7 linked regions of the Homo sapiens genome follow. The protein of the gene in region 1 purifies or fractionates together with the protein of each later gene. This does not show direct contact. Each region holds a gene or a part of one and is shown in the gene's direction. Other genes may lie near its edges.

The links.
Region 2: the proteins of OR2M7 (region 1) and RHBDD1 purify together in Homo sapiens (affinity purification with mass spectrometry; one large-scale study listed by BioGRID and IntAct). This does not show direct contact.
Region 3: the proteins of OR2M7 (region 1) and CYP51A1 purify together in Homo sapiens (affinity purification with mass spectrometry; one large-scale study listed by BioGRID and IntAct). This does not show direct contact.
Region 4: the proteins of OR2M7 (region 1) and FNDC3A purify together in Homo sapiens (affinity purification with mass spectrometry; one large-scale study listed by BioGRID and IntAct). This does not show direct contact.
Region 5: the proteins of OR2M7 (region 1) and OSBPL8 purify together in Homo sapiens (affinity purification with mass spectrometry; one large-scale study listed by BioGRID and IntAct). This does not show direct contact.
Region 6: the proteins of OR2M7 (region 1) and ANKLE2 purify together in Homo sapiens (affinity purification with mass spectrometry; one large-scale study listed by BioGRID and IntAct). This does not show direct contact.
Region 7: the proteins of OR2M7 (region 1) and ZC2HC1B purify together in Homo sapiens (affinity purification with mass spectrometry; one large-scale study listed by BioGRID and IntAct). This does not show direct contact.

What each region holds. Positions count from the first base shown.
Region 1 is NC_000001.11:248,323,130-248,325,795, reverse strand, and holds OR2M7 (olfactory receptor 2M7), read left to right. Parts: upstream 1-1,227; coding exon 1,228-2,166; downstream 2,167-2,666. UniProt on the Homo sapiens protein: Odorant receptor.
Region 2 is NC_000002.12:226,863,554-226,867,053, forward strand, and holds part of RHBDD1 (rhomboid-related protein 4), read left to right. Parts: intron 1-1,050; 5' UTR 1,051-1,140; coding exon 1,141-1,573; intron 1,574-3,500. UniProt on the Homo sapiens protein: Intramembrane-cleaving serine protease that cleaves single transmembrane or multi-pass membrane proteins in the hydrophobic plane of the membrane, luminal loops and juxtamembrane regions.
Region 3 is NC_000007.14:92,124,478-92,127,977, reverse strand, and holds part of CYP51A1 (lanosterol 14-alpha demethylase), read left to right. Parts: intron 1-346; coding exon 347-473; intron 474-1,550; coding exon 1,551-1,725; intron 1,726-3,500. UniProt on the Homo sapiens protein: Sterol 14alpha-demethylase that plays a critical role in the cholesterol biosynthesis pathway, being cholesterol the major sterol component in mammalian membranes as well as a precursor for bile acid and steroid hormone synthesis.
Region 4 is NC_000013.11:49,206,412-49,209,911, forward strand, and holds the end of FNDC3A (fibronectin type-III domain-containing protein 3A), read left to right. Parts: intron 1-669; coding exon 670-984; 3' UTR 985-3,368; downstream 3,369-3,500. UniProt on the Homo sapiens protein: Mediates spermatid-Sertoli adhesion during spermatogenesis.
Region 5 is NC_000012.12:76,367,772-76,371,271, reverse strand, and holds part of OSBPL8 (oxysterol-binding protein-related protein 8), read left to right. Parts: intron 1-1,449; coding exon 1,450-1,635; intron 1,636-1,970; coding exon 1,971-2,058; intron 2,059-3,500. UniProt on the Homo sapiens protein: Lipid transporter involved in lipid countertransport between the endoplasmic reticulum and the plasma membrane: specifically exchanges phosphatidylserine with phosphatidylinositol 4-phosphate (PI4P), delivering phosphatidylserine to the plasma membrane in exchange for PI4P, which is degraded by the SAC1/SACM1L phosphatase in the endoplasmic reticulum.
Region 6 is NC_000012.12:132,727,918-132,730,832, reverse strand, and holds part of ANKLE2 (ankyrin repeat and LEM domain-containing protein 2), read left to right. Parts: intron 1-562; coding exon 563-1,154; intron 1,155-2,669; coding exon 2,670-2,801; intron 2,802-2,915. UniProt on the Homo sapiens protein: Involved in mitotic nuclear envelope reassembly by promoting dephosphorylation of BAF/BANF1 during mitotic exit.
Region 7 is NC_000006.12:143,895,474-143,898,973, forward strand, and holds part of ZC2HC1B (zinc finger C2HC domain-containing protein 1B), read left to right. Parts: intron 1-3,078; coding exon 3,079-3,218; intron 3,219-3,500.

The sequences.
Region 1 (2,666 bases):
CTGATCACACTCACTATGACCTGTATGGACACGGGCTTTCTTTATTCTGGTCACTGTGGTAGCCCCAGTGATCAACACATAGCCAGGCTTCATAAATGTTGTTGAAAGGATGAATCTCATGCTTTTCTTAATTTCTGTTTTTATATCTACTTATTTTCTATAGGATATATTGGATGTATTAATTTCCTACGAATGCCAGTACAGAGAAATCACAAACAGGTTACCTAAAACAATAGAAATTTATTCTCTCATAGTTTTGGAGTCTAGAAATCTGAAATCAAGTTGTCAGCAGGGTTGGACACTTCTGAGGGCTCTAAGAGGATGAATCTGTCCCATTCCTCTCTCCCAGGTTCCTGTTATAACTAACAGTTTTTGGCATTTCTTGATTTGTAGATGCACCACTCCAATCCCTGCCTCCCCTATCACATGGTATCCTCAGTGTCTCAGTCTTCACATGGCCACCCACTTATCAGAACATGAGTCATATTGAATTAGAGAGACCCACTCTGCTCCAACTTGACCTCACCTTAACTAATTATACCCTTTATGTATTTCTAAACAAGCTCACTTGCTATCTTTTGGGGAAGAAACATAATTCAATGCATCACACTGGGCTATAGAAAAAAGAGCATATGTCTTAGATTTGTATAATTGAAAATCTTTTCAGTGAATCCACTTACTGTATAGAAAACTTACTATAAAGTATAGATAAAATACTTTAAACTGTAAAGTAATAGGTAAACATACACATTTTCTTAACTCTGGTAGGAAAAATGCCTACTATCATGTGAATAAAGGCACAAATTTATTGTCCATTTCTAGTATTGTGTTGGTCACATGGTGACTGAACCTGAATTTCTCTATCAATTTACCTGTAACAGGCTTCTGATGTTTTAGGAACTGTTTGCTTTGGAGACATATTCTTTTTGGAAAAACTCCATTGATCATGTAGTAGATATTGTTATTGTAATTTTTCAATGGAGAAAAAGAATGCTTAGAAGAAAAGTTAGGACAAGCTCCATAATTTTATAAGTGAGACACTGCTGAGAGAACATATTTCTTTATGATTCCATAATTCTTAAACTTTGAGTTTTATAATTCTGGCCATCCTGTATTGATCACCAAACTACAGAATTTACCATAATCACATGCTTTATAAGGCACTGGGTAAATGTTTATCAAATTAATGAACTGTTTTTGCGGTGCTAGGTAACAGGCATATTCATCATGGCATGGGAGAATCAGACCTTCAACTCTGACTTCCTCCTCCTGGGAATCTTCAATCATAGCCCCACCCACACCTTCCTCTTCTTTCTGGTCCTGGCCATCTTTTCAGTGGCCTTCATGGGAAACTCCATCATGGTTCTCCTCATCTACCTGGATACCCAGCTCCACACCCCCATGTACTTCCTCCTCAGCCAACTGTCCCTCATGGACCTCATGCTCATCTGCACCACTGTACCCAAGATGGCCTTCAACTACTTGTCTGGCAGCAAGTCCATTTCTATGGCTGGCTGTGCCACACAAATTTTCTTCTATATATCATTGCTTGGCTCCGAATGCTTTCTGTTGGCTGTTATGTCTTATGACCGCTACACTGCCATTTGCCACCCTCTAAGATACACCAATCTCATGAGACCCAAAATTTGTGGACTTATGACTGCCTTCTCCTGGATCCTGGGCTCTACAGATGGAATCATTGATGCTGTAGCGACATTTTCCTTCTCCTACTGTGGGTCTCGGGAAATAGCCCACTTCTGCTGTGACTTCCCTTCCCTACTAATCCTCTCATGCAATGACACATCAATATTTGAAGAGGTTATTTTCATCTGCTGTATAGTAATGCTTGTTTTCCCTGTTGCAATCATCATCACTTCCTATGCTCGAGTTATTCTGGCTGTCATTCACATGGGATCTGGAGAGGGACGTCGCAAAGCTTTTACTACTTGTTCCTCTCACCTCATGGTGGTGGGAATGTACTATGGAGCAGGTTTGTTCATGTGCATTCAGCCCACATCTCATCATTCTCCTATGCAGGACAAGATGGTGTCTGTATTCTACACCATCGTCACTCCCATGCTGAATCCTCTCATTTATAGCCTCCGCAACAAGGAAGTGACCAGAGCATTAATGAAAATCTTAGGAAAGGGCAAGTCTGGAGATTGAGTTACCTCATAAATTTCATGTTTTGCTGTCTGCTAACGTCTTCTTTTTATTGTCTCTCTTTTTCTATTAAGTCCTAAAAATATCACTAATTGTGTGCATTGCTCAACATATTGATGGGTACCAGTATAATTTATTTCAGATAAACTATTTTAGATTTTTTAATATTCAATTCAGTTATGACTACAATATAAGGCATTTTCAATAAAGACATTCCATTTTTATTTTTAAATTTCATTATCATTTTGGGAAACACATAGTGTTTGGTTACATTAATAAGTTCTTTAATGGTGATTTCTGAGATTTTAGTGCAGCGATCAACCAAGCAGTGTTCGCTGTACCTAATGTGTAGTCTTTTAGCCCTCTCCAGTCCCCAACATTTCTTCCAAGTCCCCAAGTCCAGTGTATCATTTTTATGCCTTGGTGTTTCATAGCTTAGCTGGCACATATGAGTGAGAATATACGATGTTTGGATTTCCATGCCTGTGTGACTTCACTTTGTA
Region 2 (3,500 bases), on another chromosome or scaffold:
TTGTATACCTGTGGTCAGCTAGACAGCTTCACCTCTGGAGTAGTAGCTGACCAGTGGCAAGGACCTTCAGGGTGACTGGAGTGTGTGCCTCTCTTTCATTACCCAGCAGGCTGGCCTAAAGTTTTCACATGTTGTTTGAGAGGGTTTCAAGAGAGAGAAGCCTATAAATCATCTTGAGGTATAGGCTGGGAGCTTATGTAGTATCCCTTCCTCCACATTCTGTTAGCCAAAGCATGTCACAGTGCCAGCCCAGGTCCAGCGGGGTGGAGAAGCGGGCTAGTAAGCCATGGAACTTCTCATTGTCAACCCCAAATCACCCTTGAAGACCATAGTCAGATCACCACCTCAGGCTGTGTTGTGTGCCTGTGCTCTGGGTTCCCTCTCTCACTGCATTTAGAACATTATGTGGCCACTGTTGGTTTATTTCTTGGTGGAAAGTGAGCCTCTTAAAAACAAGGACTGTGTTTCAACCCAGGATTTGGCTTGTAGAGTAGGTAACGAAAAGCTGAAGTTGTTATGAAAGTAGAGTTCAGACCACTGATATCTGGCAGTGTGGAAATTGGGATTAAAGATAATGTATGCTCGTGTCTTAAAACTTGCTTGTTGATGTTTAAAAACTTTGGAGCAAACTCATTCTAACATATCAAAATCAAATATTTCTTTGAAAAAAATGGAGGGGATAAAGAATCCTGGCCAGGATTCTGAGTAGAAATCATTTAATACTTGCACACTATCTTTGTAGGTTTTTCATGAGGTTACATGTTTGTTTGGGAAGTGAAGTTAATTTCGTGGTGTGTTTGTCAGAGAAAAACATACCTGTCCATTAACTGATTCATTGGGATTTGGGATAACATTTCTATTCTAGAATGTAAAATGAAGGAAGGGTGTCAGTCAGCATCCTCGATATTACTCTTGAAGATGTCGAACATAAATATTTCTGTTAGAATGAGAAGTAGCATTTGCCTCATGGGAGTTTGTCTTGAAGCGAGTATGTCTTATATATGTACTAATTCTTAATTGATGGTTTTTCACATGCATTTTGTGTTTTAGGTTCAGCCGTCTGTATATCTCCCCAGATACCTGAAACTGACCACCTGAGTACGTTTTCCCATTGCTGAGCTGTTTCCCTGATATCTGGCCATGCAACGGAGATCAAGAGGGATAAATACTGGACTTATTCTACTCCTTTCTCAAATCTTCCATGTTGGGATCAACAATATTCCACCTGTCACCCTAGCAACTTTGGCCCTCAACATCTGGTTCTTCTTGAACCCTCAGAAGCCACTGTATAGCTCCTGCCTTAGTGTGGAGAAGTGTTACCAGCAAAAAGACTGGCAGCGTTTACTGCTCTCTCCCCTTCACCATGCTGATGATTGGCATTTGTATTTCAATATGGCATCCATGCTCTGGAAAGGAATAAATCTAGAAAGAAGACTGGGAAGTAGATGGTTTGCCTATGTTATCACCGCATTTTCTGTACTTACTGGAGTGGTATACCTGCTCTTGCAATTTGCTGTTGCCGAATTTATGGATGAACCTGACTTCAAAAGGAGCTGTGCTGTAGGTTTCTCAGGTAAGGGAGACAAAATTTTGAGGTTGCATGCATAAAGGAAGCAAGGGAGGTGTGGCTGCTGTCATTTTATGAAGTGTGGGTCCCTATCAAATTCTGAGTGGTTAAGGGCTGCTGAGGCTTTGCGTCTTGAAGAGGAGGCTGGAGCATGCAGGGACTAGTTTTTGCCATTCTACATTATGCTGCATTATTCACTCTTAGTCTGCACTAGGACCTGCTGGAAGGTGGTTTTGTAGAAGACATAGTATTGGAAATATGCACCAGCTCCTTATGGTAGGGTCACAGAAAGACCCACAGATGTATTTGTAATAGGGAGTTCTCAAAAAAGATGACTGTGCTTGTGAAGTAGGCTCAGTGTGCTGTCTCTGATTACCAACTTGTCTGCACCTGGTGAGACAGAGCACACTCATCTGCAACAAGTTACATGAGGCAGATTTAGTATTTACAGTTAGGCAGCAAGGGAAAACAGGAGCCTAGGATTCATCGTGAGCCCATCTTCAAGGCTCAAAAAGCTGCCTAGGGCTGTTGGAGTCTTCACTGTGTGTGTTCCTTGCATGCAAATAAGGAACCCCAAAGAGGCAGCCAGGTACAAACCTAGGAATCACATGAATCACTGGGCAAAGCTTTGAAAGACATCCTATTCGGGAGAGGATTAGGCTGTTTCAGCCAGCCCCCTTTTATCTCAGGGTGTTGGATTTCCAGCACATTTCCATAGTTATTCTTGAGAACTACAAGCGAGAAAGGAGGGGGAGAACTACATAGGTCCAAGGCCACCTGGAGAACTGTCCTGCGATGCCTCTGGATGACTTCGTTAATAAATGGACCACACCCTGCTATGGCATGCTGGCCATGTTTTAGGAGCCATGATAATCACTCTGCATAACCTAACCAATTTAATTTATGCAGCAGATCCACATGGAGATGGGATTATCTTTATTTTATTTTATTATTTATTTATTTTTTTTGAGACGGAGTCTCGCTCTGGCACCAGGCCTGAAGGGCAGTGGCGTGATCTCGGCTCACTGCAACCTCCGCCTCCCAGGTTCAAGCGATTCTCCTGCCACAGCCTCCCGAGTAGCTGGGACTACAAGGCACGCACCACCATGCCCAGCTAATTTTTGTATTTTTAGTACAGATGGGGTTTCACCATGCTGGCCAGGATGGTCTCTATCTCTTGACCTTGTGATTCACCCACCTTGGCCTCCCAAAGTGCTGGGATTACAGGCGTGAGCCACTGTGCCCGGCCTTGATTTTATTTTACTTTTTTTATTTGTAGTTTTTTTTCTGACCACCTGCTGACTGTTGAGGGATTGTCTTGATTTTATAGATGAGGAAGCCAAGACCCAGAGAAGTGAGGTTACTAGCACAAGGTTACCCAGCTCGGAAGCGATGGAGCTGGGACTTGAGCCCAGTCTACAGATTAGCTGTGTGATGCATTGTCTCTCACTTTCTTCCTCACTAGTTCCTTTTTACAGATATTTCATGGGACCAAAATTGCCAGCAGGATTTAAATTAGGCGTTCTAAATATTAGAATGTGAAGGGGAGGAGAGAGGTAGTCCTGAAACAAGGAAATCTAATCCTTCCTTCTGCTTTTCCTGACATCCTTCCCCTTTCCTTCCAAGATGTATCCTTATGCATCTAATTGTGGGAGAAGAAAGAATATATGCCCTGTCTTCAACATGTTTTTCCATAGAGGTTAGAAAAATACATATTACTGGTATTTTTATTGAGTTAAAATTTATATAGCATAACTATTTTGTAGTGCACAGTTCACTGGCGTTTAATACTAATAATAGTATTTTATTCACATGGTAGGTATTATGTATTTAGTAGCATACTGAACACCAATATGAACTTCTATATTTAGAAACATCAAAGGAGTGACTGCCTTTAACGTTGTCTTTTTACCAAATGCAAGGTTGTAAGGAA
Region 3 (3,500 bases), on another chromosome or scaffold:
CTCTGGCTGTGAATGTAACACACATTAGCCAGTACCCTAGTATAGCAGTTAAGAGTTAACATTAAATCTTGTTTCTAGTGATGGGGAATGAGGGAATGAATGCCTCTCCTTAAGGCCAAAAAACAGGGCCCTGGAAAATCCCTCTGTTCAGATATATATATTCATTTAGACTCTATTCATTTAGAGTCAGATAGATCTATTCATTTAGACTCTTAAAATGTAAATGCCCAAAGGGTTAAAACCATTACTTGTGTTAGTGTTACATAATTATAATAACCTAAATGGATTTTATGATAAAACAAAAATGTGTTTTAATGCCGTATCCCCGTTTTGAATTTTTTTGAAGGTTTTCTTGGAGCAGAAGAAAATGTTAAAAAGTGGCCTTAACATAGCCCACTTTAAACAGCATGTTTCTATAATTGAAAAAGAAACAAAGGAATACTTTGAGAGTTGGGGAGAAAGTGGAGAAAAAAGTAAGCAAAATGTTTTATGTTTGTCCTAACATTTCTACTTCTCTGTGAATAGAAAAGTAGAGTATATATGTGTGTAGTATATAAAAAACAAATTACAGTGTATGTAAAACTACCTTAGATTTATGGGAGGGTTATGTAATGATTACCATGAAGTTGTAACTGAGAATCCAGTTTTTATACTGGGCTGCAAGTTAAGTATTGCCTTCAGAAGCAATTGCTGTGCCCATAGTAGGAAGCAACATCTGCCCACAGGGCAGCAGGACCCAGGGCAGCAGGTCACTATATTCTGGGTCTGGCCTTTGGCCTCTGTAAGAGTTCCAGAATCTTTGTTTTTGGTATACTTAAGTTGATATTGATATATTTTCTAACCATACAAGAAACTGATGTATAAATTAGAATGCCAATGTAATAATGCATGTGAGACATATAATTACAGCACCAAGAAATCCAGAATATTTACTGATATTCTTTTTATTGACAAATATAATTGGAAAGCCAGATGATCATTGGAAGTTCATTTAGTGAATGTGGAATTAACAGGAAATTAATTGGATAATTTTTATTAGTTGTCATCAAATTATGCTTGCCTGGTGCATTTGTCTCCAGTGTTGGGATATACTAATTGGTGATTATAGTTTTCTTTTACATATCGCCAGTAATTCCATTTTGGCCCTGATCTTCCTACTTTTAACCTGGGAAATAATCTGATCTTTGGCTACTATTCCTTGGGAAGTACCTTATTATTGTCATATGCACTATAAATAACCTTTTTTCTGCTTTTGTTATTGTGACCTGGAAATCAAATAACCACATTTATTCTTTTCATGATGAAGTGCTCATGAGTGGGGTTTTGAGATGTGTTTCTGGGATCTGTTTTGGCTGTTTAGAGGGACAGGGTGCTTCACATTGTTTGGTTTATTGCCCCTCTTTGTTGTTGTACATAGTCACATGTCTGTCTACAGACTTTTTTTGATGATATGAATAGGATCTTGTTTCTTCTTGAGTTCTGTTTTTAATTCTCAATTTTCTTTCACTTTTTGGAAATAGTAATGAGAATAATCTTTTTTTTCTCCCTAGATGTGTTTGAAGCTCTTTCTGAGCTCATAATTTTAACAGCTAGCCATTGTTTGCATGGAAAGGAAATCAGAAGTCAACTCAATGAAAAGGTAGCACAGCTGTATGCAGATTTGGATGGAGGTTTCAGCCATGCAGCCTGGCTCTTACCAGGTTGGCTGCCTTTGCCTAGTTTCAGGTATGGATAAAGAATATATTACACTAGGTTATTTAACTTTGTATAATTATTGTAGTGTTGGTATGCTTTGCCTTAACAAAGATAAAAATTAAACAAGTAAAACATACAAAATGGGTAAGATTATGAATCCCCTTTCTTCTATAAGAATTCAAGACAAATTTTCTTTATATAATGAGCTCATTTAAAGTAAGTTTCAGTTTATTAAAAAGGTGATTTGTTGTCTGTCTAGTCTAATATTTTATTTATGTTTTTGTTTTTGAGATGGAGTCTTGCTCTGTTGCCCCAGCTGTAGTGCAGTGGTGTGATCTCGGCTCACTGCAGTCTCTGCCTCCTGTGTTCAAGCAATTCTCCTGCCTCATCCTCCTGAGAGCTGGGACTACAGGCACGTGCCACCATGCCCAACTAATTTTTCTATTTTTAGTAGAGACAGGGTTTCATCATGTTGGCCAGGCTGGTTTCAAACTCCTGACCTCAGGTGATCCACCTGCCTCAGCCTCCCAAAGTGTTAGGATTACAGGCGTGAGCCACTGAGCCCAGCCTAGTTTAAAAGCCTGCTTACCTCACGTATTCCTTATCCTCAGGAAAGTCTCTGAACTATACCTAAAAGTGATACAGCTCTTCTCTAGCACTTGTTTGAAATCTTTGGTGGCTTTTTATTGTATTGTGAAGTTTCTTTGTTTTAAATATTTGTGCCTTTATTTAATTTTCTGTTTCTTAAGGACAGGGACTGCCTCTGATATAAAGAAATATTGCTCTTAGGACTTGATCTATAGCTTAGTGCTTAGTGTTTTGCATATTAGTAGGCTTTCTGTACTTTTGTTGATTTATTGGTGTTTAGGTGACAGATGGGGAGGAGATAGATTGCTAGTCCCTTTTCTTCTATTTCTGCCCCCTCTATCTAGTTACAGATTGGAAGAGGGGTGGGAGTAAAAGGAAGAGCCAGGAGAGATTCCCTAAAGTTCTCTGGAACTCATCATACCTTATATTTGCAAGGAGCTTTGCAGTTTCAAAATGTTTTCATATATCTTATATTAGAACACCCAGCACAGCCCTGGACTCATAGTGGGTTCTCCATAAATGTGCATTTCTTTTTTTTTTTTTTTTTTTTGGTGATGGAGTCTTGCTCTCTCGCCCAGGCTGGAGTGCAGTGGCATGAGCTCGGCTCACTGCAAGCTCTGCTTCCCAGGTTCACGCCATTCTCCTGCCTCAGCCTCCCGAGTAGCTGGGACTACAGGCACCCGCCACCAAGCCTGGCTAATTGTTTTGTACTTTTAGTAGAGATGGGGTTTCACCGTGTTAGCCAGGATGGTCTTGATCTCCCGACCTTGTGATCCGCCCGCCTCGGCCTCCCATAGTGCTGGGATTACAGGCGTGAGCCACTGCACCTGGCCCATAAATGTACATTTCTACCTGCCTGTTTCTACCTGCTCTGTCTCTTGGATGAAGTCAGAGCTTGCTATGTTAGGCCCTTCACATTCTGGCCCAGTCTTTCTTTCTTCTACTCATACCAACTAATTTAACCAGATTATTCAATTCACTTTCTTAAACAGGCCTATGTTTTCCTGGTTCGACTGTATTCATACAGTTAAGCCCCAACATCTTCTCTTCTGTACACATGGTTTCAGTTGATCCTCAATAACAGATTAACAGTCTTGTAAATGAAACAGAGTAGGAGTTTTTTTTAGAAGGCTTGATTTAAGAGGGGGCTTGGGAGTCAGACTGCCTAGTTTTAAATTCCAGCTCCAATGTTTGCTTTCTGTGTGATCTTATGCAGC
Region 4 (3,500 bases), on another chromosome or scaffold:
ATTGCCAAGGTCTGATTTTTCACAAAAAAAAAATTTGCAACCTCTGGCATAAATGGGTTAATTACTAGCACATTCCTCTGAAAATCCGTGGAATTTCATTCTTTTTATTTCCCTTGTGAGGCATGGCAGAGGAGGTCCTATTTTCTGATTCTAAGTGATCTCCCCTCTCTGGTTTATACAGTGATTTGCCATAGGCACCTATAGAAAGCTCCCCTTATTCATTTTCCATTTCATTGTACAGATATGTTTGAAATTATATGGAAATTTATCAGTTATACAAAGACATAATGGGGGAAGCAAAAGTAGACACTATCCCTTCTTTGATGGAATGATTGCATTGAAAAATGACTTCTTACATTTGAGAAAAGCAAGAAAATGCTTGAGGACCGATTTTGCTTGTTCTCTAGCTGCCCTGGGGCACATCTGCACTCCTTAATTCATCTGTGAACCGTATAAGGGTAGATCCTCGCTTTTGAAATTTCTCTTGCCCCTATGCAACAAACAGATAAGTACTTTAATGGACAGGTATTTTTAACATGTCATTTAAAAGATAAAATCAATGGCATTCACTGGCTTTCACATGAAAAACAATTCTAACACTAGCCAGTTTTAACACATTTTCTGTCCAGCCTTCACACGTAATTCTTCCTTCTAATATTTTATTAACAGATTTACAAGGGTCCCGACTCTTCCTTCCGGTATTCCAGCCTTCAGCTGAACTGTGAATATCGCTTCCGTGTATGTGCCATTCGCCAGTGCCAAGACTCTCTGGGACACCAGGACCTCGTAGGTCCCTACAGCACCACAGTGCTCTTCATCTCTCAGAGGACTGAACCACCAGCCAGCACCAACAGAGACACTGTGGAAAGCACAAGGACCCGACGGGCACTGAGTGACGAGCAGTGTGCTGCCGTCATCCTTGTGCTGTTTGCTTTCTTTTCCATTTTGATTGCCTTTATCATTCAGTACTTTGTAATCAAGTGAAAATATAACTTTATTTTTTAACTCTATTACATTTTATTTTGTCATGTACTAAAATTATTTCTGTATTGCTTTTATAAAAAACAGTGGCATTTAGCACTGGCATTGAGACTATAGCACATCATTTTTGCCATTTTCAGTGCTTATATTGTTAGGTAGAGGCTGGCACTTTATTAGAATGCAAGCCACAAAAATATCAATTTTGTTTTTTTTGTTAGGGTGGGTCTTCTTTTTTTCTTTCCCTCTCTCTTTTTTTAACAAATGCCTTCTTATAGAAAAACTTTCTAAGAGGCAACAATTTAGAATGGATATTTTGACGAATCGGCATGAGTGTAACAGTGATAACCTGATCTGTTTGTTTTAAAGATTATTACCAAGTGAAAAATTCAGAATGAATAGAATTTACACTAACATGCTATATAAAATGTTAAAGTCTGATGCTGTGAAAGCAATCTAGTGCTATATTTCTACCTCCTCATTTGTCTTAATTATTTGGTAAGTGGGATTATGATGAGTAACTGGAGGGGCTTAGAAACAAAAACTGGATGAAAGAGTATGCATGAAGAAAAGCTTCTTTGATAAATGTGGAGTTCTTCATTATAAATATATATTCATGAATTCACAGATAAGTACTTAAAGAACAGACAGTTTACTTGGCCTAAAAATATTTTGATGTTTACTCAAAAAGTACCTCTTCAGGTCTTGAGAACATGGAAAAGAATTGAGTGCTTTTAAATACTTTTTAGAAAGTAATCATAAAAGTAAATTGAATTTCAAACCTATTTGGCTTCTGTTTTGTGAACCTTTGAACTATATGTATGTGTATAAGGGTATACACATACATATATGGCATATAACAAGTGTACACATATACACATAACAAGTGTAGAAGTATATATTACATACATACACTCACTCTGTCTGGTATAGGCTAATTTTGAAGAACTCCCATAAGTTTCTGCTGCTTCTCCCATAACTGCTGCCACCACCATCAGAATTCATAATCAAACCTAACCTTTTTGTTTGGGGCACCAAATCTGAAGACAAAATTAATTTGCACCAGTAAACTTCAAGCTGCTTTCTTTCTTGAAAACTAAACGTTTAACGTATAATGTCTGTTTGGATACTGTTCCAAATTGTTGATTGCATGTGGTTAATGTTGCATTAGAGCACTTTGCAATTGCATAATTCATTAATGTTTTGTGAGCTTGCATTTGTGAGTTATTGGATGATCAGACTGAATTTTGTCAAGTATCACATTGTACATCTTGCCTAGATGTCGATGACTGCAAGTAATAATACAGTTTATAATGAAACTATCTACAATTCTTGTTTTAGCACATCTGTTATCCGTAAAACACCTGTAACTAGCTTTTTTAATTTATTATTTGAATTTTAGGATAGCGAATCACTAATTTTTAGTTGCTGAGGTTGGCATTTTAGTGATTATTAAGCACTTCTGTCAGTCTTTGAAAAAAGAACGTATTTTTTGTGCTTTGAAGATCTCTGAAGAATTTCTTTTATAATAGAATGGGCATGTATTGTAACAGTTTTATGTCAAATGATCTGTGCTGTAGAAAAACATTAACCCTTGTTCAAAAAAGAAATGGATAAACTTGGCCTTTCTAAGTGGTAAGAATGACCTGTCACTATAATATACTGTATGTTTACATTTTATTTAAATTTAATCTCTTATGTATAGGGTGATAACCTTCCCCAGAAACAACAGTGATTGCGATTGTTTTCTAGAAACTTCTTTAAAGTGCCACATTTGGCAGTACAAATGAGTCTGAGTGTAATAGCCCAGAGATTTATATATAGTTGAATGTCTAAAATGGTAAAATGTGCCACTGTGTCAAGTTACAGTGGCTTATGTTTTTCATAGTAATTCAAATGAACTTCCTATTTTTGATAGTAAATGTCATTTAATAGTATACTTGCCATTTGAGCCTCACTGCAAAATTAGTGCAGAGGAGAAAACAATTTTTAATGTAATCTTGATTTTACCTCATATACTGTACATTCCAAAAACTCTAAACTTTTTAAAGATTATAGATACACTACCAAACATATCACCTTAAAATTGTATAAGGCTGAATGAACTTCATACAAATGAAAAAAATCTCATAAAAATACATAAACTATGTAGCAAAAGTATCTGTAAAATCCATGGAAAATAAAAGTTGTATCATTCTTTTTGAGATACGTTTATTGTATTCATATATATTCATTATTTGCTACCTGTTTAAGAAAGTGAAATGTTATGGTCTCCCCTCTTCCAATGAGCTTAAAACATTTTTCCCAACAGTATATAAATCTTCAACATGAGAGGATGTATATTTATTATATAAAGCCCAGTAAAGAATAAAATTAGAAGTTTTATCCTAGTGACTTGATTTTGTGCAACTCATGAAATATCTTACTTCCTTTCCACATATAAAGAATACAGTGAGTCTAAGGTAAACTTCCCAGTGGGAAGAAAATCCCTAACCTCTCCTTGCCTTTCCCACATCCCTATT
Region 5 (3,500 bases), on another chromosome or scaffold:
TCGTCTTGCTTTTCTGTAGCTCAAAACTACTCATTTTTTTCTTTCTCAATTGTTCCAGCACCTTAAAAAAAAAGAAAGAAAGAACGTTTTTGTTTAAATAAGATTACAGGACTAATTAATGACTCTTAGTTTCTACCTGGCAACAGTTTTCTAACCTGATTTAAGCATTAGAACTCTAGGTAAAGGGAGTGGTGCAGAATCTACTTCTGTTCCATTCTCTGATACAAAAGTAAAGTTACTGGATGGACTGGCTTCTATAGGATTTATTAGTTGGGTAATAACTAAGGCTATCATTTCTGTTCTTAAGTCATGAACTTCTTGCTAGATGGCTTATATTTTTGAATCAGAAATATTGTATACACATTCCCTATTTTATTGTTGTTATATCTTTGTGTTAAGAGAAAGAGACTTATGTATAAGAGATATTTTGCTAGGCACTTAGTACTTATTATGCAACTTTGTCCTCCCTACATGTTTGCACATACATATCATTCTCTGTCATGGGAATTCAAGTCTGTGTACCTTCCCTTCTACACTCAAATTTGAGGTTGTCAAAGATGGAAGAATGTATATGTACCAGTTCTAAAAATTCTGTCTCAGCCATAACCATTTGATGTTCTTTTTCCAGAGATAAGCTTTGCCAAGGCATACATATGATAATTTGTGAGAGTATATAATTCAGCATATTTGAAGATGAGGAAATGAGACTTAGGATAAATAACTTTAAGTGCACCAGCTAAGAAGTGGCAGCTCTAGGACTTGACTCATGTCTATCTGATCCCAAAGCCTTTTCTGGTTTTAACATGCTGCCTTTCTAGATGGGTAGGATATAGATATACTTTTATTTAACAGAAGAAAGAACTAGTAGGGGAAATCATTTTACCTCAGTAGTCTTTTCTGTTAAACCAGTGGTTCTCAACACTAGCAATACATTAAAATATTTTGGGGAAACATTTAAAAAATATATCAATACTTGCGCCTGACCCCAGAGATTCTGATTATAAAAATTCTCTGATAATTCATGGATCCAAACTTCAGAAGCACTGCATTACATTAATGGATCTTTATGAAGCCAGTGAATCTTAAACAGTGTAAGACGCATCTAGGAAGCTTGCTAAAAGCGTAGATTCCTGAGCTTTACCTTCATTACATCCTATCATCTTGAGCCAGCAACACTTCAACACTTACTATCATGAGTTTAAGAGTCTATGTAGTAAGTTTCTCTTGCCAAGTAAAAAAAATTAGTCTCCACTTATGAACAGGTCTCTCTCTACTCAAGGGACTGGATTTATATCTTGACTCATTTCTAAGCCTATGAGCATAAGTGTTGTCAAAGCCAGAAATTCATGTGAGCATTATTTTCTCTACAAGGGATTTGAGGCCTATTCTATATAGATTTTATTTTCTGTTACATTTTTAATACTTTTAATATTTTCGCACATGTATTAGACTCTGGCAACGGGTAACTCGAGCCATAAATGCCAAAGACCAAACTGAAGCTACCCAAGAGAAGTATGTTTTGGAAGAAGCTCAAAGACAAGCTGCCAGGGATCGGAAAACAAAAAATGAAGAGTGGTCTTGCAAATTATTTGAACTTGATCCACTCACAGGAGAATGGCATTACAAGTTTGCAGAGTAAGTAACTTAAAATAGTTTATTTCAAACAATGTATTAGCATGGTTTGTTGCCTTTATTTCTAGAATATTTGTTGCTGGAGTAGTTTTTATTTAATTAAACCATGTATATTAGTGTGAGATTTTTAAACTTGGTTTTGCATTCATTATAAGCTTGACTCTATGATAGAAGTTAGCCTATAAAATAAGTTGAGGATCTGAAGATTAGGTATGGGGAAATCTCATTATTAGAACTATGTATATAATTATTAATAAAATTGGATCATAGAATAGAAAGTTTTAAAGTTCTTTGTTTAGTCATTGAGCAAATGGTTTTTTTTTTTTTCATTTATGTAGTACCCGACCATGGGACCCACTTAATGATATGATACAGTTTGAAAAAGATGGTGTTATTCAGACCAAAGTGAAACATCGTACTCCAATGGTATGTAATAAAAAACTAGGTACACTAGGTATATAAATCTGTTAAATCTTTAGTATCTATAGCAACCAACTAAAATTTGGTTTCAAAATTTAAAATTTTGGGTGAGCAAAATACGCAGCTCTGAACTCTTCTTACCCCAAAGAAACATCAGAAAACAAGCAAAAACTGTCAACTCAATTTGCCAGAACTCTGGAAAACAGTCAGAGGTGTTCAGCAACCAAGTGAACACTGGTCAAGAAAGTGCAAAGAGAGGAAAGCTTTGTGGCATTTTACCTGCCCTTGCCCCAGGTCCATCCCAGTGCAGTAGCAGTCTTGAAGAGCCCCTGCGTTGCCAGTGTAAGTCCCTAGTTCCAGAAGGAGCAGAGTGGACCTCATACACAATTGTGTATGTCTGTCCTAACCTGTCAGAATACTACCTGAAGGACTTACACAGGCACTCATCTCTGAGAAAATCAATAAAGACAAATTATTCAAGGGAGCCAAACAAATTCTGGAGCTGAAAAGTATAACAAAAATGAAAATTCACTAGAGGTATTCAAAAGCAGATATAAGCAAGCATAAGACAGGATCAGGAAACTTAGAGATAAGACCATAAAAATTATCCAGTCTGAGGAGGAGAAAGAAAAATGAATGAAGTGAGGTGAACAGAGCCTAAAGGACCCATGGGACACCATCAAGTGGGTTATCATTGCATTATGGGAGTTCCACAAAGAGAAGACAGAAAAATGAATGAAGAATATTTAAGGAAAGAAGACCCCCCAATCCCCAAATTTGGTGGAAGATATAAATCTACAAATTCAAGAAGCTCAACAAACTCCAAGTAGGATGATCTCAGAGAGACCCACACCACAACAAACTGTCAAAAGCCAAAGAGAGTCTTAAAATCAGCAGAGAGAAACAACTTATCACATACACTGGGGATCATCCATAGGATTAACAACCGATATCTTATAGAAACCATGGGGGCCAGAAGGCAATGAGATGACATATTTAAAGTGGTAGAAGCAAAAACTTGTCAATCAAGAATTCTGTATCTGGCAAAACTGTCATTCGAAAATGGGGGAGAAATTAAGACATTCCCAGATAAAAGCTGAGGGAGTTCATTACCACTAGACCTGCCCTACAAAAAAATGCTAAGGTAAATATGTAATAAAATGAAACTCAAAGCTGTATGAAGAAATAAAGATTTTTAGTAAATAGTTGGACAAATATAAAAGCTAGTGCTATTGTAATTTTAGTTTGTAAGTCCACTTTTTATTTCCTGCAGGACTTAAAAAATAAATGAATGAAAAATAATTTAATTACATATCTTTGTTATCAGACATACAATGTGTAAAGATATAGTTCATTACAACATAAAAGCAGAGAGGATGGAGCTGTATAGGAGGAAAGTTTTTATGTACTACTGAAGTTAAGTTGGTATCAACTCAAACTAGATTGTT
Region 6 (2,915 bases), on another chromosome or scaffold:
TTATTTCCCTCCTCGTCTGAAATAGGGTCTCACTCTGTGGCACAGGATGGAAAGCAATGGTGCAGTCACAGCCCACTGCAGCCTCCCCCTCCTGGGCTCAAGCGATCCTCCCACTTGAGCCTCCCAAATAGCTGAGACTACAGGTGCGTGCCACCATGTCAGCTAATTTTTCTATAGAGAACGGGGTTTCGCTATGTTGCCCAGGCAGTCTTGAACTCCTGGGGTCCAGCGACCCCCCTGCCATGGCCTCCCAGAGTGCTGGGATTGCAGGCGTGAGCTTCTGTGCCTGGCCCCAGCAGCCTGATTGTGTCTGGAGGGTCCTGTTTGCCCTTTTCCAGGGAGTCGTGTGGGTGGTTTTCCATCCTGAAATCTGATGAGGAGGTTTTGGATGCAAGAGTTGCTGTTGCTGGGGTCACGGCAGTTGGTCGCGGATGGAGTGGGGAGGTTTTGGGTATAAGAGTTGCTGTTGCTGGGGTCACGGCAGTTGGTCATGGATGGGGCGGAGCAGCTCCGTGGCTTCCTGTCGTTCCCATCACTGAAGTGCTCCTTGTTGTCCTCACAGGCAGCAATTCCATTTCCGTGAGGGCGTTTCTAGATGAAGATGACATGAGCTTGGAAGAAATAAAAAATCGGCAAAATGCAGCTCGAAATAACAGCCCGCCCACAGTCGGTGCTTTTGGACATACGAGGTGCAGCGCCTTCCCCTTGGAGCAGGAGGCAGACCTCATAGAAGCCGCCGAGCCGGGAGGTCCACACAGCAGCAGAAATGGGCTCTGCCATCCTCTGAATCACAGCAGGACCCTGGCGGGCAAGAGACCAAAGGCCCCCCGTGGGGAGGAAGCCCATCTGCCACCTGTCTCGGATTTGACTGTTGAGTTTGATAAACTGAATTTGCAAAATATAGGACGTAGCGTTTCCAAGACACCAGATGAAAGTACAAAAACTAAAGATCAGATCCTGACTTCAAGAATCAATGCAGTAGAAAGAGACTTGTTAGAGCCTTCTCCCGCAGACCAACTCGGGAATGGCCACAGGAGGACAGAAAGTGAAATGTCAGCCAGGATCGCTAAAATGTCCTTGAGTCCCAGCAGCCCCAGGCACGAGGATCAGCTCGAGGTCACCAGGGAACCGGCCAGGCGGCTCTTCCTTTTTGGGTAGGAGTGTGTTGCCCTCTGCACTCACTTTCCTTCCCCACCTTCCCTCCCCCCTCCCCCTCCCCTCACCTCCCCCTCCCCTTCCCCTCCCACCCATCCACTCCCCTCATCTCCCCCTTCCCTCACCTCCCCCTCCCCCTTCCCTCACCTCCCCCTCCCCTTGCCTCCCCTCCCCCTCCTCTCACCTTCCCCTCCCCTCCCCCTCCCCTCCCACCCTCCCATTCCCCTCATCTCCCCCTCCCCTACCCCTCCCCTCATCTCCCCCTCACCTCCCCCTCCCCTATCCCCCCACCCCATCCCCTCGACTCTCCTCTCCTCTCCTTTCTTTCAGATGGAGTCTTGCTCTGTCGCCTAGGCTGGAGTGCAGTGGTGCGATCACAGCTCACTGTAACCTCCACCTCCCAGGTTCAACCAATTCTCCTGCCTCAGCCTCCTGAGTAGCTGGGATTACAGGCGCCTGCCACCACGTCTAGCTGATTTTTGTATTTTTAGTAGAGATGGGGTTTCGCCATATTGGCCAGGCTGGTGTCGAACTCCTGACCTCGTGATCCACCTGCCTCGGCCTCCCAAAGTGTTGGGATCACAGGCGTGAGCCACCGCACCCGGCCTCCACACAAGCTTTTGTGTGGACTTGCCGTGTGCGTTCAGTTCCTGTCTCTGAGTCCAGCTTCTAGATGCTCTTTCTGGGTCTTCCTCTGGTTGGACCGTGGGTGATCCTAGTGTTGGCTGTTATTTGCTAGGGATGTGCCTGCCAGTGGTGTGAATGATCTCTTCTAAATCCTTCTAGGAAGAAAAGCCATCTTGGGGTCAATCTCAATCTAACAGGGGATAAATGTCCCTAACCTTCTGGTACTGAGCACCCTCTGGGGGTGCAAGTATGCAAAACTGCATTTTAACAGCGGGTGGATCCTGCTACCATAGAGAATGCAGGCGTGCACCCAGAGGCGACTCCTCCCTGGCCCCTGCTCTTCTCATCACAGAACAGCGAGTCTGCATCCGCCTCCCTGGCCTTGGGAGATGCCTCCCTCTGCAGAGCTAATGCCCTGACATGCTGCTGCTGGTTCCCTGGTTCCATCTGCTCAGGCCAGATCGATCCTTGCACACTGTTGTTTTGTGTGCTGGGTTCTTGAGTTTAAAATGTAGTGATATTTGTCTGGGTGTGGTGGCTCACGCCTGTAATTCCAGCACTTTGGGAGGCCGAGGTGGGTGGATCACAAGGTCAGGAGTTCAAGACCAGCCTGACCAAGATGGTGAAATCCTATCTCTAATAAAAATACAAAAAATTAGCCGGGCGTGGTGGCAGGCACCTGTAGTCCCAGCTACTCGGGAGGCTGAGGCAGAGAATTGCTTGAACCCGGGAGGCGGAGCTTGCGATGAGCCGAGATCACGCCACTGCATTCCAGCCTGGGCGACAGAGCAAGACTCCGTCTCAAAATAAAAAAAAAAGTAGTGGTATTTTAGAAGTCTTTATGTTTTTACCAAAGATGTTTTTGCTTCTTTTATTGTGCTTTCTAGAGAGGAGCCATCAAAACTCGATCAGGATGTTTTGGCCGCTCTTGAATGTGCAGACGTCGACCCCCATCAGTTCCCGGCCGTGCACAGATGGAAGAGTGCTGTCCTGTGCTACTCACCCTCGGACAGACAGAGGTATGTGGGGCCCGGACAGCCTGTCACCCGCAGGGCAGCTTTTGGAAACTTCTGCAGGGTCCAGTTCCACTTCATGCGAACCTATCAGTGGCTTTTCCCAACGCTGGCAGGCCC
Region 7 (3,500 bases), on another chromosome or scaffold:
ATTTATATACATATAACTAGAGTTATATATAACATGGCCTAACATGCATGAATGTGCCAGTAATTTCCCTTTTTTCCTCAGCATGATTCCCTATTTTCATGATTCAGTTTTTGAGACATGCCTATATTCTACTTTTTAGTGACTTAGCTAAGTCTGTCAATGATTTAAATTTCTAGGATACTGTGACAGTTTATGGGGACAGTGATATAGAATATTTATAATTGTTATTTTTCTATGAGGCCTGGGACATTCAGTTACCATTTTGCATAGCTACATAGACACGGATACACAGCACAATATTGGCATTTTAAAATAATGCTTGGTTTTCCACTTTTCTCTGAGATCTGGCCACCATATTCCTCGAAAGAATTCATTTGGACTCTGACTTTTAAAATCATTACCTATTGAAATAAATAGGACATGGTGATTTTATGAAAACATTATTGATAGAGGAAGAGAGGTGACTCCGATTGAGCTGAGTGTAGAACATGTAGCTCAGTTATGCTGGGTTCAGATTATTGTTGCAGAAAATACAACAATTCTCAAAATATGTGAAGTTCAACATAAATAGAAATCAGCAACCTTGAATGCTCAGCCACAGGACTCTCTCCTGCCTGCTCTCTGCCCCTCTGGTGGGGCCTTATGTTCCTTCTGTAGGGTCCCAGAGGCCCTAGTGCCTCTTCTTCTACAGTTTATCCCACCAAGCAGTAATTGTCTGTTTGCCTAATCATCTCTGAGATTTTCATTGGCAGGGAAATAGACTTCAACTTTGCTGTCTCCATGGTGATATGTAGTACCAAACACAGAAGGGTGGCAGTGAGTGAATGAGCAAGTGGGATTAAGGAAGCAACTCAGTATTGCCATGATCATTGTCTTTGCCTAATGTGAGTAGGGTTTATGGTTGCAGCATTTCTTATGTAAGACTTCACTTTCCAGCTGGCAAAATTGAAGAAATAACCACCAAGCTAAAAGCCATGTTCTAGATGGTTCTTCTAAACCATTGTAAATGAATTCTGAATGATAATGGCACTTTCTATTGTACTTTTTTCCTAGGCAGTTTCACTTCTATTTGGTAGTTGGAAACACAACCTTGCTGAACCTGTTTCCTTATAGCAATAGCTAGCATTTACAAAACATTTAGTATGTTCCACCCCGCCCACTGTGCCAGGCCCTTATGTGGATTTTCATAGTTAACTTTCACAACAACCCGATGAAACAGGTGATATGTAGGTGCTGGGAAAATGGAAGCTTAAGGAGGTTGGGTAACTTGCCCGAGTTCACACACATAGCAAGTAAAGAACTCAGGCTCAAAACCAGTCAGGCAAGCTCCAGCACTGGGCTTTTTATCATTTCCCAATGCTGTCCTGTTCTATTTTTTTTCAAGGCATTTATCTCCGTGTGAAATTTTTATTTATTTGTTTCTGTGCTAGAATGCTTACTCCTTGATTTCAGAGACATTGCATCCCCAGGTGTAAGACAGCACCTGGCACCAAGTAGATGCTCAGTCAGTGTTAAATTAATGATGAGGTACTGCCTTCTGGATGGAGTAAGAAATAAAGGATAAGGCTACCAGATAATTCCTAAGTGCTTAACAATTGTTACATCTTATGAATATACATTTTAGGAAATGATTTGTTCAAATAGGAAACTCCCCAAACTGCTTAAAAAGGTGGCTTACAAAAAATTCTTAACATCACTACATGAAATACCCATCCACGCATGTAGGAATTTTGACTATACACTAACACAAGTTCTACACTGAGTTTGAGGTTGATGCAGTTTCACACCCTTCCTGGGGTCGGGGCGGTGGGATTATTTTATGTTGCTGATATCTAGTGTGCTATCCCTTTAAGGTGCCTGAAACAAAACAAAGCAAACACCAATCCCTGCTTGATTTAGAGGGGTAGTTGCCAACCTAGTTTTGCTATGAGCAGCTCCACATTCTAAGAAGATCTTGCCTGTTTCCCACTTCTCATTTCTCTCCGTAACCAATTATGTCTGTTAATTGCAAATGAAAGAAGAAAAAAAAGATATTATACAGAACCACAGAGAACCTGGGGCCGACAGGAGCTGCCTGGGCCATTGCATCTCTGGAAGCTGAAGCTGTTTTCGGTGAACTTTCCTATCATCCCTCCTTCTTTCCCTTTTCTGTTTTTTGAGTCCTCACCTTTTATCCTATTACTATCTCCTTCCTGAATATATTGCCTGCTCACTTAGTAGTTAAGTGAAAAAAAAAATCTAGCCACTGCAAAAGCAGTATGTCTTTCTGCCAGTGACACAGTCCCATTGACTTCCATTCATATCTCCCAAACCCACATTTTGAAACATCCCATCTCCCTCTGTAACTCTGTAACTTCTCTAAGACCCACCCAGCACTACAACCTATGCTTTTGAATATTCTGTGCCCTACTGTGCCATCAATACTAACATTCTGTGATTCTAGAACTACTTTCTTTACACAGGATTTACTAAATAATTCATTTCATTGAGAAGTTCTTAAGATTAATTTTCTTTGTTTTTCTGGAAAAGTACATCACTTAAACATTTCAAGGACAGACAATTGAAATGAATGCACAGGTTGTGACATTTTTCCATGCCATGTCCTTTAGTTGAGCCCTGCATGTCTTGCCCTTTGGAATAGTCTCAAACCAGAGTTTGGGACCTTGTTCTTTCATGTTGGAGCAGAGTTCATATCATTACTTACATATTTATTTATTTACTTATTTGAAATAGGGTCTTGTTCTGTTGCCCAGGCTGGAGTGCTGTGGCATGATCACAGCTGACTGCAGCCTTGACCTTCTGGGCTCAAGCTATCCTCTCAAGTGGCTGGAACCACAGGCACACACCACCACACCTGGCTAATTTTTTGTAGGGACGGGGTTTTGCCGTGTTGCCCAGGCTGGTCTCAAACTCCTGGACTCAAGCAGTCCACTCACCTCAGCCTCACAGAGTGCTGGGATTACTGGCATGAGCCATCATATCCTTATTTCACTTCATGTAGTTCATTCTATAATTCTATAGTATTCTATAGTTGTTTTTGAAGTGCTAATTGCCATTTGTTGTTATCTTTACATTCAGATTATATTCAACGTCCATATTGTATGAGAAGGTTTAATGAAAGCGCAGCTGAGCGACATACTAATTTCTGCAAGGATCAGTCTTCTCGCCGAGTCTTTAATCCAGCTCAGACAGCAGCCAAATTGGCATCCAGAGCTCAGGTAACTATCTCTCCCCAGGTGTTGGCTCTTGTGCCCTTGAATGCCTAGGGGTGAGCCGGTAGAACTCCCTAGAGAACCTCAGTTACCCATCCTAAGAAGTGTAAGCGTGAAGAGAGCTGATCATGATTGCTCACCCCTGTGGGAGCTGACTTCTTTTGCAGGAGAATGCTTTCCAGCTAAGGCACCTTTGGGTGTTGTAGAAAAAAATATTTCTAAAGTATTTGAAGCTTCTTTGGGTGAAGACTTGAATACATAGTGTTTCTATAGCATTATGGCAAAACT